Regions from separate parts of the Homo sapiens genome. Here regions 1, 2 and 3 are each linked to region 4. The links come from fine-mapping of genetic effects on gene expression. A gene starts in region 4. Each other region holds a variant in brackets. All regions are shown on one strand. Distances are from middle to middle.

Evidence for each region. PIP is the estimated chance that this variant, and not a neighbour inherited with it, causes the effect.
Region 1: its variant is the best candidate, but not a certain one, in a credible set for the expression of STAMBP in tibial nerve (GTEx, PIP 0.80).
Region 2: its variant is the best candidate, but not a certain one, in a credible set for the expression of STAMBP in subcutaneous fat (GTEx, PIP 0.72).
Region 3: its variant is the best candidate, but not a certain one, in a credible set for the expression of STAMBP in monocytes after triphosphate RNA (Kim-Hellmuth 2017, PIP 0.76).

Annotation. Positions count from the first base shown.
Region 1 is chr2:73,856,003-73,860,002 of GRCh38, reverse strand. STAMBP (STAM binding protein) reads right to left here. Exons shown (of 10, transcript NM_213622.4): 8 at 637-749. LOC112268419 (a long non-coding RNA gene) reads left to right here and starts at 3,026. Exons shown (of 3, transcript XR_007087106.1): 1 at 3,026-3,382. The variant T/C (reference allele first, on the strand shown) is at 1,902.
Region 2 is chr2:73,850,128-73,854,127 of GRCh38, reverse strand. It overlaps STAMBP (STAM binding protein), which reads right to left. Exons shown (of 10, transcript NM_213622.4): 7 at 3,615-3,752. The region is part of intron 1 of LOC112268419 (a long non-coding RNA gene); the gene reads left to right. Among named protein-coding and RNA genes, the nearest start is that of STAMBP, 23 kb to the right of the region's middle. The variant G/A (reference allele first, on the strand shown) is at 2,340.
Region 3 is chr2:73,866,028-73,870,295 of GRCh38, reverse strand. It overlaps STAMBP (STAM binding protein), which reads right to left. Exons shown (of 10, transcript NM_213622.4): 10 at 3,128-4,268. Among named protein-coding and RNA genes, the nearest start is that of ACTG2, 25 kb to the left of the region's middle. The variant G/TG (reference allele first, on the strand shown) is at 2,172.
Region 4 is chr2:73,826,478-73,830,745 of GRCh38, reverse strand. It overlaps STAMBP (STAM binding protein), which reads right to left and starts at 1,785. Exons shown (of 10, transcript NM_213622.4): 1 at 1,236-1,785. LOC105374807 (a long non-coding RNA gene) reads left to right here and starts at 348. Exons shown (of 3, transcript XR_940246.3): 1 at 348-430; 2 at 1,842-1,989. RefSeq lists an enhancer at 1-288 and a silencer at 1,796-2,014.

The DNA.
Region 1 (4,000 bases), 29 kb before region 4:
TCCCAAACATATGCACGCACACACACACCAGCATGCACACTCACACAGCAGGGCAGAGGTCATTGTGAGACAGCTTCTGTAGGATGCTGCCTCACAGGTCTCTTCTCTGGTGAATGAATCACAGTTAGAGAATGACTCATTACTGCCATCACACTAGTTTTGCTGGAGAATTCATAGTAAATAATCAAAGTGGGAGTAGAGACAGGATTTGGTATGAAAAAGAAGTGCATTCTGAGATAATGTGTTTGATTTTGAAACTTTCTTATTTTTTATTTTTATTTTTTTATTATATTTTTTTATTTTTTATTTTTTATTTTTTTATATTTTATGATTTTGAAACTTTCTAATCCAACATAAAACTCTTGACATTCCTATCGCTTCAAGTCAAACACTTCAAATTTCTTGTAGACTTTTCTTAGAAAAGCAACTAAGTTGTTACTTGGATATCTTTTTGAACAAGCATGATAGATAAATCATGATATGGGGCTTAAAAGGAAGCCCTTTAGAATAACCAACTTACATTATAATCTATGTATTTTACAAAGGACAAGTCCACAAGAATAGAGACCTTTTCCCCTGAGGCTTTCTTCCCTACTACCCCCTTGAAACACCCAGAACCATGCCCTCTATACTCACTCCTGGAACTTGGGGGAGCAAACAATGGCTACTGACTCTGGCAACATCATCTGGTAAGAGCAGTGAGTGTGTAGGTCGACACTGGAGAGAAACGCGGTCTGTGTGGGGTGAGTCTGAGGAGAGAAAAAGAGTCAGAGGACTCTTAGCGAGGATATATGGTAATCCCTCCTTATTTGCGATTCCCTTTCTGAGGTTTAAAGCTATCCATATCAACTGCAATCTGAAAATATTACATACGATAACATACTTTGAGAAAGAGAGATCATCTTCACATAACTTTTATTACACTGTATTTTTATAACTGTTCTGTTTTATTATAGTTGTTGTTAATCTCTTCCTGTGCCTAATTTATAAATTAAACTTTATCGCAAGTATGCATGTATAGGAAAAAAACATAGCATATATAGGGTTTGGTACTATCTGTGATTTCAGGCATCCATTGGGGGGTCTGGGCTCATATCCCCTGAGGATAAGGGGGGGACTACTCTGACATACAACCAAGTCTGGTCTCTGAAGGAAGTAAAGCCAAACAGTTCTCAACAGCTGGTCACAATCTCCTTTGTAAGTGAGAAGCCATCTGCAACCATGAGAGGTCCACCTGAGGTTCCTAATAAGTAAGGAAGCTCCTTTCCAGCACTGTAAACAAATATTGCTTAATACCAGTATGTGAAGAGACTCATAATTTCTTTCCTTTTTTAAGTTCAAGAGACTTACTATACAACATGGTGACTACTGTTCATCACAATGTATTATACACTTGAAAACTGCTTAAGAGAGTAGATTTCAAGTGTTCTCACCACAAAAAAGTATGTGACATAATGCATATGCTAATTAGCTTGATTTTCCCATTCCACAATATATGCATACATATTTCAAAACATATAGACTATTGTTATTTGTCAATTAAAAAAAGAAAAAACAAAAACAGGCTGGGCATGGAGGCTTATGTCCGTAACCCCCAGCACTTTGGGAGGCTGAGGAGGGCAGATCATTTGAGGTCAGGAGTTTGAGACCAGCCTGGCCAACATGGTGAAACCACATCTCTCTTAAAAATACAAAAGTTGGCTGGGCGTGGTGGCGGGCACCTGTAATCTCAGCTATTCGGGAGGCTGAGGCAGGCAGATCATGAGGTCAGGAGATCAAGACCATCCTGGCTAACATGGTGAAACCCTGTCTCTACTAAAAAAAAAAAAAAAAAAAAAAAAAATACAAAACAATTAGCCAGGCGTGGTGGCACGCGCCTGTAGTCCCAGCTACTTAGGAGG[T/C]TGAGGCAGGAGAAGAGCATGAACCCGGGAGGTGGAGCTTGCAGTGAGCCGAGATCGCGCCACTGCACTCCAGCCTGGGTGACAGAGCGAGACTCCATCTCAAAAAAAAAGAAAAAGAAATAAGGAGTATAAACAATTATTGGAAACTGGAAGAGCTGTCTGTGGTGAAGGATACAATGAGAGAGGGGAAGGGGATGAAAATAACTAAATGAAATAACTTAGATTGCATTGTCCCCAGCAGAATGACAACTAAACAGATGAGGATTTGTCTGAAGAGCAATCGTGGGGAGATGCCACAAGTGGGGTGGGGGAGATTCCACTTCAGTTCCTGGGTAGGTGGATGTATGCCCTCACTTACATTGTGCAGAACCATAATTCTGAGATTCTGTAGAGTGTCTGATGAATGATAAGGTGATCTTTTTCTAATGGAAAGTAACAGCATTAAGCCCAGGCAAGCGCATGCCGTCCTAGCTCATGGTTATAGATGACATACCAAATAACCCACCCACCACATTTCATCTAATTCACTCAGACAACCTTCTCAGGGAGAGAGCTCCCAGAGGTCACCAAGGCTGTACTGGACAAAAGTAAACTGTGGACGAAGAGGCTTGGAACTTTCTGGCTTCCCTTGTTTGAAGGCAGTGGAAGATGTTAGGCAGCTTGAGCACTCAGGGGGAAGGGGGAACTGGAGTAGGCAGACAAAAAGGGAGGTAAACACAAAGGGGGAACTTTCTTCTCTGTACTACTCAAAACGGGGACTCTGATCCCACTGGTTCAGAAGATCTAGGGTACCTGATGGGTTCTGGAATTCCTGGTTGGATGAAGGACTGTAGGCGCAGAGCCTTGATGCGAGAAGGCATCAAGACATCGGGCCATTAAACAGGTAGGGTATGGAGAGGACCCAGGGACAGAACTCAAACCTTCCATCTGGGGCATCATCGGGGAAAGATACTGTTCCACAGTGTTAAAACTCAAAGACCACTGCAAAGTGGGAGAAAAACAGAATTCTGAGGCTGGAATAGACAAGGCAGAAGAATTCAATGCTGTGCCACATTCCAGTTAAACAAATTCTGACCTCACAAAAGGAAATCAAGATCTAGGTTCCAAGTGTGAAGAAAAGGCTTCCCTGGGGTTGGTGTGTGCTAGCCAGGAGATCAGTATGGTGGGTCTTGTGGGGTGTGAGAACTGGCAAGGGGAACCCCATCTCAGATGACAGCACACAGAAACTGGCTTGGAGACCTCCTTCAGGCACATACCTGCTGCACAAAGATCACCAGACAGTAGGAGTGGAGACAGGAAAAGACATTTGCATCTCAGGGTTGGAGACAGAAGAGGGGGTTGTTTGTTGATATTTCCTGCTCTAGCTCTCCTGTTCTTGAACCAAATTGGAAGAACTCAAGGACTATGATGTTGGATTCACCCAGGGATCCATGGAATCAAAGGTGTTAATGGGGTTGTCATGATGGGCATCCATGGACAAGGTAGGTGGGTGTCCTCAACAATTGTGAATGGCACTCAGTGGCCCTTGGAACTTTTGCTAGGGAATTTCTTCTATCTCCTCTAAGAAGTGTTTCTCTCTGGATGATTCAGGCTTTGGTTTTTCAAGAGACTCATAATTTCTAACTGACCATCAAGACTTATTTGGTTCCTTACAAGGTCTCTTCATACCACTGAGTCACCCATTCTGGAACAGATGGTACATACCCAATATTTCAACATGGTGGAAGTCAAGGACTTAGTAAACCACAATTAGATGAATGATTCTTCTCTCCCACAGAGGTGTTAAAAGGTCAAACATGAATCAGGTTCTATAGGCAAAGGCTGTCCTGTAGCTAAAGCATCATCCAAGGAAGATATGGGAGGTAGGGGAATACTTGAATTTCAGTTGATAGTTAAACCATACAAAGGAGACCATTCTGTTTGGAAGGAGAACACGATGCTAAAATTTGAGGTTAATCAGTTAAAATATCACCTAAATGTGCATCCCGATTATTTGTTTCCATTGTTTGTTTTATTAAGCACATATTTTATATACAAAACAGACAACTATATAATGACTTATGTTCATCTTAGAGGAGGTGTGATCTTAGGTAACAAAA
Region 2 (4,000 bases), 24 kb before region 4:
CCTCTATGTACTTCTCATTCGATCCTTCCTTATCACCACATTACCTTGTCTCTCCTGCCCTTTTACATCTCCATTGTTGGCTCATTGGGCATAAGAACATGTTCAGAAAACTACACACAAGAATGTGGATAAACCTTCAAAATGTTGAGCAAAAGAAGCAAGACACAAATATACATATGGTATAACTCCATTTACAAAAAGGTAAAAGCCAGGCAAAAGTAAACTATAGTGTTTAGAGATACACATTGAAGTGGTGAAATTATAAACGAAGCAAGGAAGGGAGGACTTCCCTCCCTTAGGGCATGCATGCTCCTGACAGTGTTCTGTTTCCTGACCTAGGTAGTGTATGTACATAGATATTTGCTTAATGATTTGTTAAAGTGTACATTTAGTTTCTTTTTTTCCCAAGACCAAGTCTCGCTCTGTTGCCCAGGCTGGAGTGCAGTGGCGTAATCTTGGCTCACCACAACCTCCGCCTCTGGGGTTCAAGCAATTCTCCTGCCTCAGCCTCTCGAGTAGCTGGGACTACAGGCATGCGCCACCATGTCCAGCTAATTTTTGTGTTTTTAGTAGAGACAGGGTTTCACTATGTTGGCCAGGCTGGTCTCGCACTCCTGACCTCGTGATCTGCCCGCCTTGGTCTCCCAAACTGCTGGGATTACAGGCTTGAGCCACCGCACCCGGCCTAAAGTATATATTTAGTTTCTGTGTGCTTTCTTATTACATGTGTTATATTTCATCAAAACAAAACATGTTCAAGCCTTTCACTTTGAACAATCAACCAAACATTCTCTCAACCCAACTTCTCCTTAAACCACCATTCCATGTTTCTCCTTTCCTCTAGAGCTAAGTTGCTCAAAATGGTAGTGTATACTTCATTGTCTCCACAAACTTAATCCCTATGAGTTCTTAAACTCTTACAGTCTACTCCCATTAATGCCTAAAACACACTAAATCGAGATCCTCAATAATTTCATCAAATCCAGGCCGATCCGAGTCTTCACCATTCTGGAGCTCTCCATAGGATGTGACATGGTTAACATCTGGAAATTTTTTCTTAAAGCCTTCCTTGGCCGGGTGCGGTGGCTCATGCCTATAATCACGAGGATCACAAGGTCAGGATTTCGAGACCAGCCTGGCCAACATAGTGAAACCCAGTCTCTACTAAAAATACACACACACACACACACACACACACACACACACACACCTGGCCAACATAGTGAAACCCAGTCTACTAAAAATACACACACACACACACACACACACACACACACACACAATTAGCCAGGCATAGTGGCGGGTACCTGTAATCACAGCTACTCAGGACACTGAGGCAGGAGAATCACTTGAACCTGGGAGGCGGAGGTTGCAGAGCCAAGATTGCGCCACTGCACCCCAACCTGGGCGACAGTGTGAGACTCCGTCTCAAAAACAAAACAAAACAAAAGAGCCTTCCTCCTCCTATGGCTTCTGTGCCTTACCACTACCCTCACCTTTTTCATACATCTCTTTGCTCCATTGCTAACTACATTCTATGTTACATTAGGTAGCCTGTCCCCCAAGTTGCCAGTGAACCTTTTCTTGCTCTAGACTCTTCTCCTACTTCCAGGGCTTCCAAGATCAGCACTAAATAGTGGATTCCCAGAGCCCTCTCTCCTGCTTTGACTTTGCTCCCAAGTTCTAGCCCTACATTGCCAACTGGCTGATAACTACCTCCAGTGATTTAATATCTCATCAATACCTGAAATTTAACATGCTCAGAACTGAACCCCACTTTCAAACCAAATCCTTCTCCTGGATCCCCTACTTTTGCTTATGAGATGATCACTGCAAGGCCCCAAATCTCTGAGTCACCATTGACTCTGAGTCATCATCCTCTATTACTCATTTCCCAAATCCTCTGAAATCCTACATTCATCTCCTCCTTCCCAAACACACTAGCATCACCCTAGCTCTTATCATTATTAGGCTTTATCAGCACACTAACCTCTTAAATCATCTCCTTGCCACAACCTACCTTAAAACTGTATTTATGTTAAATTTTCTAAAGTATGGCTTTAATCATATCATTGCTCTACTCAAAAACCTTTAGGAATTTTCCACTTACTAAAAAGTGGAACAATTCTGCCTGTCCACCCCAGACCCTCCAGAACTCGGCTCCAATGTACTACATTAAAACATATCTAGCCGGGCGTGGTGGCTCATGCCTGTAATCCCAGCACTTTGGGAGGCTGAGGCGGGTGGATCACCTGAGATCAGTAGTTCGAGACCAGTCTGGCCAACATGGTGAAATCCCATCTCTACCAAAAATACAAAAATTAGCTGGGCATGGTGGC[G/A]GGCGCTTGTAGTCCCAGCTACTTGGGAGGCTGAGGTAGGAGAATCGCTTGAATCCGGGAGGTGGAGGTTGCAGTGAGCCAAGATCTTGCCATTGCACTCCAGTCTGGGTGAAAAGAGTGAAACTCTGTCTCAAAAAAAAAAAAAAAAAAATCTACCACTGTTTCCTGATATGAACCATAAATCTCAGTGAACTGGTCCCCCCAGTGCTCCAGGGACAGAGTCCGCCTCTTCTCCACCTGTCTGCTCCTTAAGGAACTTGCCCTTGGCCCAGCTTGCCAACATTCTACTAAACCCTATCAGGCATGGTCCCTCCTTCCTCTGAATTCCACAGTGCCTCGCTGGCACCTCTTGTGGCCTTTAGCACGTTCTGCCCCAGGTGAAGTTATTAATTGTCTATTTATTTAATCTCCTTCATGAGGCTAAAATCATACCTTACTCAAATTTGTATGCCCTGGCAGATAAGGAACAAGTTTTCTCTCCCCCATCTACTACAATGGGGGTGGGATGGGGATACACAATAATAGGCAAATCATCAACATGAATGTAATTGAATAGAAGAAAGGACAGAAGGCACATGGGACTGCCTCACAGGTCAGTCTTTCCCAAATTCTGGCATACAAGTATGTGTAATCCAAGAATAAGCCAATTTATTTGTAACTCTGTCATACAGCATAAAATGCAGCTTGGGCTATGAGAGTGAGGGGTTGAAAAGGAATAGAAAGAAAAATTTAAAAATAATCTTTAGGGAAGGCATTATATTTTACCTGAACATTACCAGAAGGCTGCACAAGATATGCAGACACTTGAAAATCATGTGTATTTATAGCCCTTCTTGTTTATATAAAGGTGCTTTAAGAAAGACCAAATGCAAGCATCTGAATTAACCTCCTTGGCTCATTTAAAATATTTTGAATTATATACCTTTAAGGAACATCATCTGTACACAGTAGGCATAGTCTCTAAGGTCAATGTCCACTTATATTCTAGGCCAGCATCCCATCACCAGTTACACTCAGAGGGAAACTGGAACTTTAGGGAAAACAGTTTATTTTTACTAAAAAATAAATAAAAAGTTAAAAAAATTTAAAAGCCCTAAGTGTTCCCAGAAAACAATACCAAAGTGCAATAGTCAAGTATGCTAAGGACTGCATCCAAAAGAGAGAAAAACAATAAATAATCTGGATATAATTGACTTTGTTCAAAGAAACACTCATGTATTTATACCACCATGGGAGAGGCAGAGACTAACTCTCGGACAGCTCAGAATTGCTTACATGAATCCAGCCCAGTGTGATGAGGCCCTGCTGATCCTGTATGAGGAAAAGTTCTTCTTCGTTCTCTGTGTTGCAGTAATCAGACCCAGCACTTTGCTTGGGGATGAGAACATGGGTAATGGTAAATTCATTCCTCATCTGCCAAAGGAGAAAACAGCTGGTCACAATTCCCTGGTGCTCATGCAACCCTGCTCCACTCCATCCCGACAGTGGAAAGGTAAGCATCTATACAAGTGAAAGCCCTTCCCACACAGCAGGAGTCCTGCCACTCAGTGGTTCACAACCTTGGCTGCTGATGCACATTGCCTGGGGTACTCTGTACAGCGACAGATGCAGAGACCAACCCCAGAACTCTGCAGCCTGGGCAAACACCACAGCCCTGAGGG
Region 3 (4,268 bases), 40 kb before region 4:
TCCAGTGGTGAGGTCACCCTCATGGAAGGTTTCCATATATGACATGCCTCTGCTGCTACGCCCAAGAGCTTTCCCAAGCCCCTTTCACTGATGCTGTCCAAGAATAGGGTCTGGCTGGATTCCCACATTGAAGGGGCAATGAAGTTTCGGTTTCTGAAAATAGAAGGTATTGTCCTTTTTGTCCAATTATAAAAGCAATACATGTTCTTTGTAGTACATTTGAAGAAATTCGAAAAAGGATATGGGGGAAAAATGAACAGTCATCCCATAATTCTATCACCTACAGATAACTAATATTAATATTTTTAGGTACTTCTTATTCATAGTTTTTCTGAATACATGTATTAATGTATATTTTAGGAAGGCAGCATTACAGTGTGGTTGAGTGTGGGTTTGAAAGTCTGACACTATTCATTTGGAGTTCTGTGGCCTTGGTCAACTTAAACTCTTCTAAGTCTTACTTCCTTCAACAATAAAGTTTGCTGATTCTTAATCTAGTCCTCGGTCAGTATCAAATTACTTTAACTTATAGGTTTATTTTTTATTTTTATTTTTTAAAGTTTTATTATTATTATACTTTAAGTTTTAGGGTACATGTGCACAATGTGCAGGTTTGTTCCATATGTATACATGTGCCATGTTGGTGTGCTGCACCCATTAACTCGTCATTTAGCATAGGTTTATAATAAGCATTATCTGGTAATAAATTTCCCCCAAAATTCTTTTTTTCTTTCAATTTTTAAATGTTATTTCACATATCTCAGATTAATTTTAGAATAATCTTTCAAGTTAAAAAATGATACTTTTTAGCAGACTTGCATTTAAATTTTTGGATTAAAGAAGACGTAGCATCTTTAAAATTAAAACATTGTCTTTCTCTCATAGAATACCGATAGTGTGCCTGTCTTTCCATTTATTTTCTTCATGTTCCTCTGAAAAGCTTACTGGTTTTCTTCATATGAGGCTTGCACATTTCCTGTTAACTTTGTTCCAAAGTATTTTATATTTTTAGTTGCTATGTGCTGAATTAGATTTTTTTTCCCCCAATCACAAATGGCTATTACCTGTACTGAAAAGCTATTTTCAAAGTTTTAAAATGTATCTTTTAGTGAACATCGTTGTGCCTTTCTCTTAATAGGTCTGACCATTTTTCAGAATTTATTATCTTCAGATTTCTAGGTAGATACTTAGCTTGTAGCCCAAACCTGTCTGCTTTCCAGTAGTATACTCTTTATCCTGCTTCACTGCATTGGTTAGATTATCCTTTCAGGACACTGTTCAATAATAGTAGTTAGAATGGATCTATCTTGTCCCTGACAGCAGTGTTTGCTTATTAAGTATGACGCTGGGTGTTATATATTAGAAGATTTATTTTATCATGTTAACGAAGCTTCTTGCTTTCTTTTTTTTTCTTTTTTTGAGTCAAGGCCTCTCTCACCCTCGTCCAGGCTGGAGTGCAGTGGCGCTATCACAGCTCACTATAGCCTTGACCTCCCTGGGCTCAGGTGATCCTCCCACCTCAGCTTACTGGGTAGCTAGGACCACAGGCATGCACCAATGCCTGGCTAGTTTTTTGTAGAGACAGGGTTTCACTATGTTGCCCAGGCTGGTCTCGAATCCCTGGGCTTAAGTGATCCGCCCACCTCAGCCTCCCAAAGCGCTGGGATCACAGATGTATGCCACTGTGCCTGGCCCTTTCTTTCCTTACTAGGGGAGTTTAAAAAATAAAAAATAAATGTTGATTTTCATCTTAAAAAAATTTTTTTTTATGAGAGACTCTTGTTTCTGCTTGTTTCCTTTGACCTACTCCTGTGATATATTATATCAGTGGATTTCTTTTAATGAGGTCACCATTACATTCTAGGGACAAAAATCACCAAACGCCTCAGGGCTCTCAGAGTCAGGTAGACCTGGGCTGCCATCCGACTCATCACTTTCTAGCAGTGGAATCATGGGCAAGTCCTACATGAGGATGCATAATACATGCTGGCAGTTAGGATACTTTATTCCTTTACTAGATTGATGATTTTTTTAGTGTTCTATTTAGAATTTTTGCATCTATATTATTGATTTTGATGTGAAGTGTGTGTGTGTGTACACAATTTATGAGATTGTGCTCATAAAAATGACTTATGTCATTTACTTAATTTCTGGGTTTTTTTTTTTTTTTT[G/TG]AGACAGAGTTTTGCTCTTGTTGCCCAGGCTGGAGCGCAATGGCGTGATCTCGGCTCACCACAACCTCCGCCTCCTGAGCTCAAACGATTCTCCTGCCTCAGCCTCCCAAGTAGCTGGGATTACAGGCGTGTGCCACCACAGCCGGCTAATTTTGTATTTTTAGTAAAGATGGGGTTTCTCCATGTTTGTCACGCTGGTCTTGAACTCCTGACCTCAGGTGATCCACCCGCCTCGGCCTCCTAAAGTGCTGGGATTACAGGCGTAAGCCACCGCACCTGGCCAATTTCTGCTTTAGTACTTATTTCTTTCCCCCTGGTTTCCTAGTATATTTTATTATTCTTTTTCTAATTTGAGTCCGATGCTTAATTCATATCTTTTGATTCTTTCTTCTTAAATAATGAAAGCATTTAGAGTTCTAAATTTCCTTCTCTGTATAATTTGTAGAAATTACAGAAATTTTAATTTGTGATATTGTATTATCGTTCATCTCTAAATAAAAGATGAATGATTATATATGTAGTTTTTCTCATTTGCCTTTCTTCTAGAGGTAACCTTCTATTATTGTTATTTATTTATTTTTTTAGACGGAGTTTCGCTCGTTGCCCAGGCTGGAGTGCAATGGCGTGATCTTGGCTCACCACAACCTCCACTTCCCAGGTTCAAGCGATTCTCATGCCTTAGCCTCCCAAGTAGCTGGGATTACAGGCATGTGCCACCACATCTGGCTAATTTTGTATTTTTAGTAGAGACAGGGTTTCTCCATGTTGATCAGGCTGGTCTCAAACTCCTGACCTCAGGTGATCCACCCGCCTTGGCCTCCTGCTGGGATGACAGGCATGAGCCACCATGCCCGGCTGATTGTTAATTTTTAATTTTCACAATCTTTAAACATCAATATTTAAAATGTGCTCACATTTGTTGCACTTCTCCCAAAAAAGCAAAGCCTTACCATTTATTAATTGGATGATTTTGGACAAGTCTGTGCATTTATTCATATCTTATTCCATGTCAGGGGACTCAGTACAAAGGTGAAAAAGACAAAGTTGCTGTTCTCAAGGAGTATACTTTAGACACATAAGCTAGCAATAAACAAACAGGATGATTTTAGCTCATGACAGGGCTACACAGACAGTAACAGTGATGAGATAGAGTGATGGGGAAGAGGTGCTTAAAATGGGGTTGTCAGGAAAGGCCTCTGCTAACCACCAGATCTCATGGGCTCATCTTGAGATTTAACCCAGCAAACCTCTTCTGAGCCAGTTGGCACCACTGATCTCCCTCCCCTCCTTTAAACTGTTGCCTTCCTTGATTTCTGTGACAAGATACTGGTGTCACTATCTCCTTGTCTCCTCCTACTTCCAGCTCCCTCTTTCAGCCTTCTATGCAGGCACATCTTCTTTTGACCACCCATTAAATTCGCTGTTGGCCAGGACAACCATCCCTCCTGGCGGCTGGAAAGAAAGCTCAAGTGCAGCACAGGCCCAGCATATGATGCTGAGTCAAATTCAGATGGCTTCCTACAAGGTGACATAGAGCTTCTCCAGGCTAGGACACAGGTCCACCTGGCTACCTAACACATTATTCAACACCAAGGAACAACTGATCAATAAGGTTAAGTGCCTATACTGACTGCAAGGCATGTTACACAGTGCATAAAGCAAACATGATTCTTACCCTAATGAAATTTATACGATAGTTCAGAAACATGACTTACATAAAAGACAATATGAAAACGCTGCAAAACAACAAAAAACACACACAACAAATTGTGGGAAACAGACTATAGTTGCCACTGGAGTTCAAGGAAGGAAGCCCTCAGAGTGAACCTACCAGTGAGGGAAGGCACTAAAGGAACTGGAAGGACAGAGCCCATGGTTATGTAGCGTCACAGTGCTGGATTCTGGATCTAACAGGCTGATTGAATGATGCCGGACACACCTGTAAGTTAAGGCCCAGCTTCTAATCTCAAACAGGCTAAGGTGAACTAAAAATTGAACCCTGGATTAAGGGGTGAAGACTTCAGTGAAGAGGGCCAATGTTCTGCCCTTCCTTCATCTCAAGAAGTAGTTGGAACAACAAAAGTGGGAGGTTCAAAC
Region 4 (4,268 bases):
AGAGAAACATACCAAATGCTGTGGCTCCTATTAAATAAGGACTTTCCTACAAGAAGGCTGAGACCCTCAAGGAAGCCCAAATCACAACGATGAGAGTACTGGCAGACTAGAAAACATACAACCCCTGTACCATAATTAGGTGGTATAAGGAGTAGAACCACAGTGGACCAACCAAAGGTTCAGTTCAAGTTAATCAAATCCTTTGCCATTAGGGGGCTCCGCCCACAGCACTGTAAAAGTGGGAACAGCATCTTTTATTTTCTATTATTTCTCCTTCCAGATACCCACATACCTCCACCCCAGTACCTGGCAGAGTGCACTCAGTGAACTTTCTTGAGGATTGTTAACTAACTTCAAGGTTGACCATTTTTACTTAATCTGAGAGTAACTGACATTTTCTGTGGTATCCTTTTTCATATTTGAGCACAAGGTGAGTTAGGGGAACTGGTCTGGGAATTAATGCTCATAATTGTAACTCTGCTCACTAAACCACTATAGTCAATCTATAAAATCATTCATTCATCATTATCATGGCAAGAGACTTAAATCTTGAAAACAACCATTTACTCATCTTCATAGACTAAACACTGAATAACAAAAAGGCACGATGGTAACTTGCATTGCAAAAACCCCTGGTGTCCCAAAACTCCAGTAATTCTAGTCTTTCTAGATATAGTTGCTGTTAGAATCAGATTCCAAATTCCAACCAGATATCACCACTATCATCTCCAAAATAAAACTGGGCATTTGACACACATTGCATTACAGCAAACCCTAATCAGTATGCTCTAGAATACACAAACTACAGTAGAATAAATCTTGGAATTCAAGGCCCTGTGGCAACTGGCCCTCCCCAACAGAGATCTTTTGCTTCAGTCAGGATTCCAATCCGCCCAGGCATCCTCACATTTCAGTTTCATTTATCTATCCAGTTTTTCTTTTCTACTACAACTCTTCCCTCAGGGGTAGTCTTCTCTCAGCCAATTCCATCTTTAGGTCTCTTCAATATTCGGGTCACAATTCCTCCACAAACCTTCCCCTCTAAAACACCCTCACTAATAGCACAAAAGCCGTGAGGACTACTAGGGATGCAGAGATAGTCCATCTCTCACGAGGCCTCCTTAGGGACTCAGAAAGCCGCAAGCATATCTAAAACCTCCCCAAGTAATTAGTAAACCTAGTCCACGGCCCATGAAAGTTAACTGAAACAGAGGATGCTTGTTGCATCTCAGTACCTCTTGGGAGAGGTTCTTGTGGGTTAAGAAAGGAACCACCTCCCAAGGCCAGGAAGCGGCGCCGGTTACCACCTGGTTGAGCAATTCCAAAAAGGGGATGCAGCATCTGCAAATGAGGGGGAAAGGCGGCGTAAAGGACCGAGGGGGAAATACGAGGAGGAGAAAGGAAGTAGCAGGAATGAGCGGAGGGGGCGTATACAGTAGGGAGGGCTCTATCGACAACTGCTTGAGGAACCCTTCTTGAAGGCACTCAAGACGAACTTGCCAACCCCAGGCACAATCATCCAGGGTTTTCGGGATCTTTCAAATGCAGTAGGCGGGGAACCGCTGGGCCTGGCTGGTCAGGCGCCAGCCCGCGGAGACAGAAGCCGTCGGGTGCCTCGAGCGAGGCAGGCCGGGCAGGGGACTCGGGGAGAGTAGGCTGCAGGCCCCACACTCACGGCGGCCGATCCCCTTCAAAGTCCAACCACGCTCGGAGGCCCTGCCCCACCACGTTCCCGGGACCCTTCCCCACCTTTCCCCGCGGATGACACCCGGAGGTTCCGGAAACGTCACATCCGGCGCCCGCTCCGCCCACTCCCGTTCGTCTGTCTATTACATTCCCAGTGATTTAGGACTTGGAACGGAGAGCTAGTAGGTGGGGCTAGAATCGGCACCTGCGGAAAATCCGACCAATGAGGAGCGAACGACACAGCGGCCATCTTGGTAAAGGAAAAGGAACAAGGAAGAAAGTGGAACCAATTAGCAAGCTAAGGTTTGCTTTTAAAATTATTTTGATTTGGGGTAGTCCCTCATCACACTCACAATACTCCTGCATTTAAGGAGGGATTGCTGATCCCAGCACAACTGCAGACTTAGCTAAACTAACCAGGATTTATAAATTGGGGGACAGAAAGTCTTTCGAATGTATTTTTTAGCTTGTATTACATTCTACACAAAAATTGGTAGTCTTAGATATTAGGCAATATCTAAGACTAATTTTATTGCTTAGAAAAGAACATAAGTCTAACTTTTTTTTTTTTTAAGACAGGGTCTTGCGGTGTCACCCAGGCTGTCACAGGAGTGCAGTGGTGTGATCATAGCTCACTGTGGTCTCCAACTTCAGGGCTCAAGCGATCTTCTTGCCTCTGCCTCCCAAAGTACTGGGATTACTGGCGTGTGCCACCGCACCCAGATGAGACTAACGTTTTAATGTCAAAAAACCTATAAAATATTTGGAAAAAAAGCGTTTAATCTCTAAGAGCCGCTATGCAAAAGCAGTGGAGACACAAAAATCTGTATGACACTGTTCCTGCCCTGAGACCGGGACAAGGTGGTTTTATGCATCAAATACAGAATGGCACGTTCTGCATGTAGATGTGTGTCTGTACGAATCCATATACATCCTCTTTACAAAAAGGTCCTACAAGCTTGCTAATCATTCTGTCTCAGAAGACTTTGTGAAACATTAGGCTTTGGTTTAAAAGTCTAAGTCTCTGGGGGACACTTTCCCAAAATTTGGGAGCCTCCCTGTGAGTTTGTTAGTGTGATGGCATGACCTATTCTTCAAGGTCTAGCTTAAATCCCTAATTCAGGTGTTGCCTCCTCCACCTAGCCAGCCTCCAGATCTCTCATTTCTCCCAACCTCCGTTGTGTATATTTCTGTTGGAGTTACCTGAAGTGATTTTGTGTAGTCATCAACTTTTCAGACTTAGGGTTGAAAGTACTTGCTTGCATCATATCACCTCCCCTTCTGCCCCCAGCAAGCATTAATGTGCATGGGTCTACTATCAACTCTCATGGATCTACTGCAGATAAATCTGGGAAGATAATTGTATAGGGCACTCTACTGTGTCTTCAAAACTCTCTCTACTGACTCTCTTCAGAATGTAAACATGATGGGTTGGGCCTAAAGAAATTGATGCACTGGAGATGCTGGTCATTGGGTGGGCATTATAGTGCAGATGGGGTCCTGGCAGGAGGCAACACAGGTCAAAATCTGATCCATTCAACCTCTCACTCAGTAAATGTTTACTGAGTGTCTACTATGTGCCAGGTTCTGTTCTAGGTGTTAGGGATACATCAGCAAACAAACCCAGCAGGTGGATACTCTAATGGTGGAAGCACAGGTAGAAGTACAGCTGGTGGGGTAGGGAGGGGCATCTGCTCCCATTCAGCACAATCTCTAAAGTAGTTCTTTTTTTTATAATGTTTAGCTTAACAAGTAAAGAAAATTTACAAACATCCTAGATTTTAAGATTATGATGAGAAGACTTTAAGAAGCTATAACTGAGACACACATATAAGGGGTGTGCATAGTCGTAAACATAGCTAGCGCCACATAGAGGCTGTTCCTGATATTAGAAAGTTAATATGCCCAGTTGCTAGCAGTTCTTAAGGTAATAGCTAAGTGAATATAGGAAGCAGGATCTAGTCTTTTTAGGGAGAGAATTTGTAAATGTTGACCAGAGTTTTTGATATCTGGGGCAAAGTTCAATACTCAGCTTTCTAGGGACCTGAAATAAGAAAATCTTGGCCAAGGTAAAAATTTTACATTCCTCATTTCTTGTTTAACTGGAAAAGTTTAAAAACTAAACAATTTTGTATACACAATCAGGAAATCAAAGCTATAAAAGATTCTTGGCATAACTGATGAGAATATCCTACCTACCCCTGCCCTAAAGATTGGAGGCTAAGCGTGGAAGGTATTCCTTCAGCAAATAGGCTTCAGCAGTTCACCTGGCAGACTAGACCAGGTTAGGAATTGAGATGCTCTTTCCTTCCGGTGCTCACTCCCAGCCATGAACACTTTTCCTGAATATAGCAGCCTCCATCTGGCCGCTTGCATATGCCAACGTCAGGTCTCCTGCACTCCTGCATGCTCATTCCTACTTGCTCATTTTTGGGCAGCAGCAAAAGATGCCTAGAAGGTGAAGTTCTTAATCTGAAATGTAACATCGGGGTTTAGAAAACACAGGCCTGGACCAGGTGCGCTGGCTCACGCCTGTAATCCCAGCACTTTGGAAGGCTGAGACAGGAGGATCGCTTGAGCCC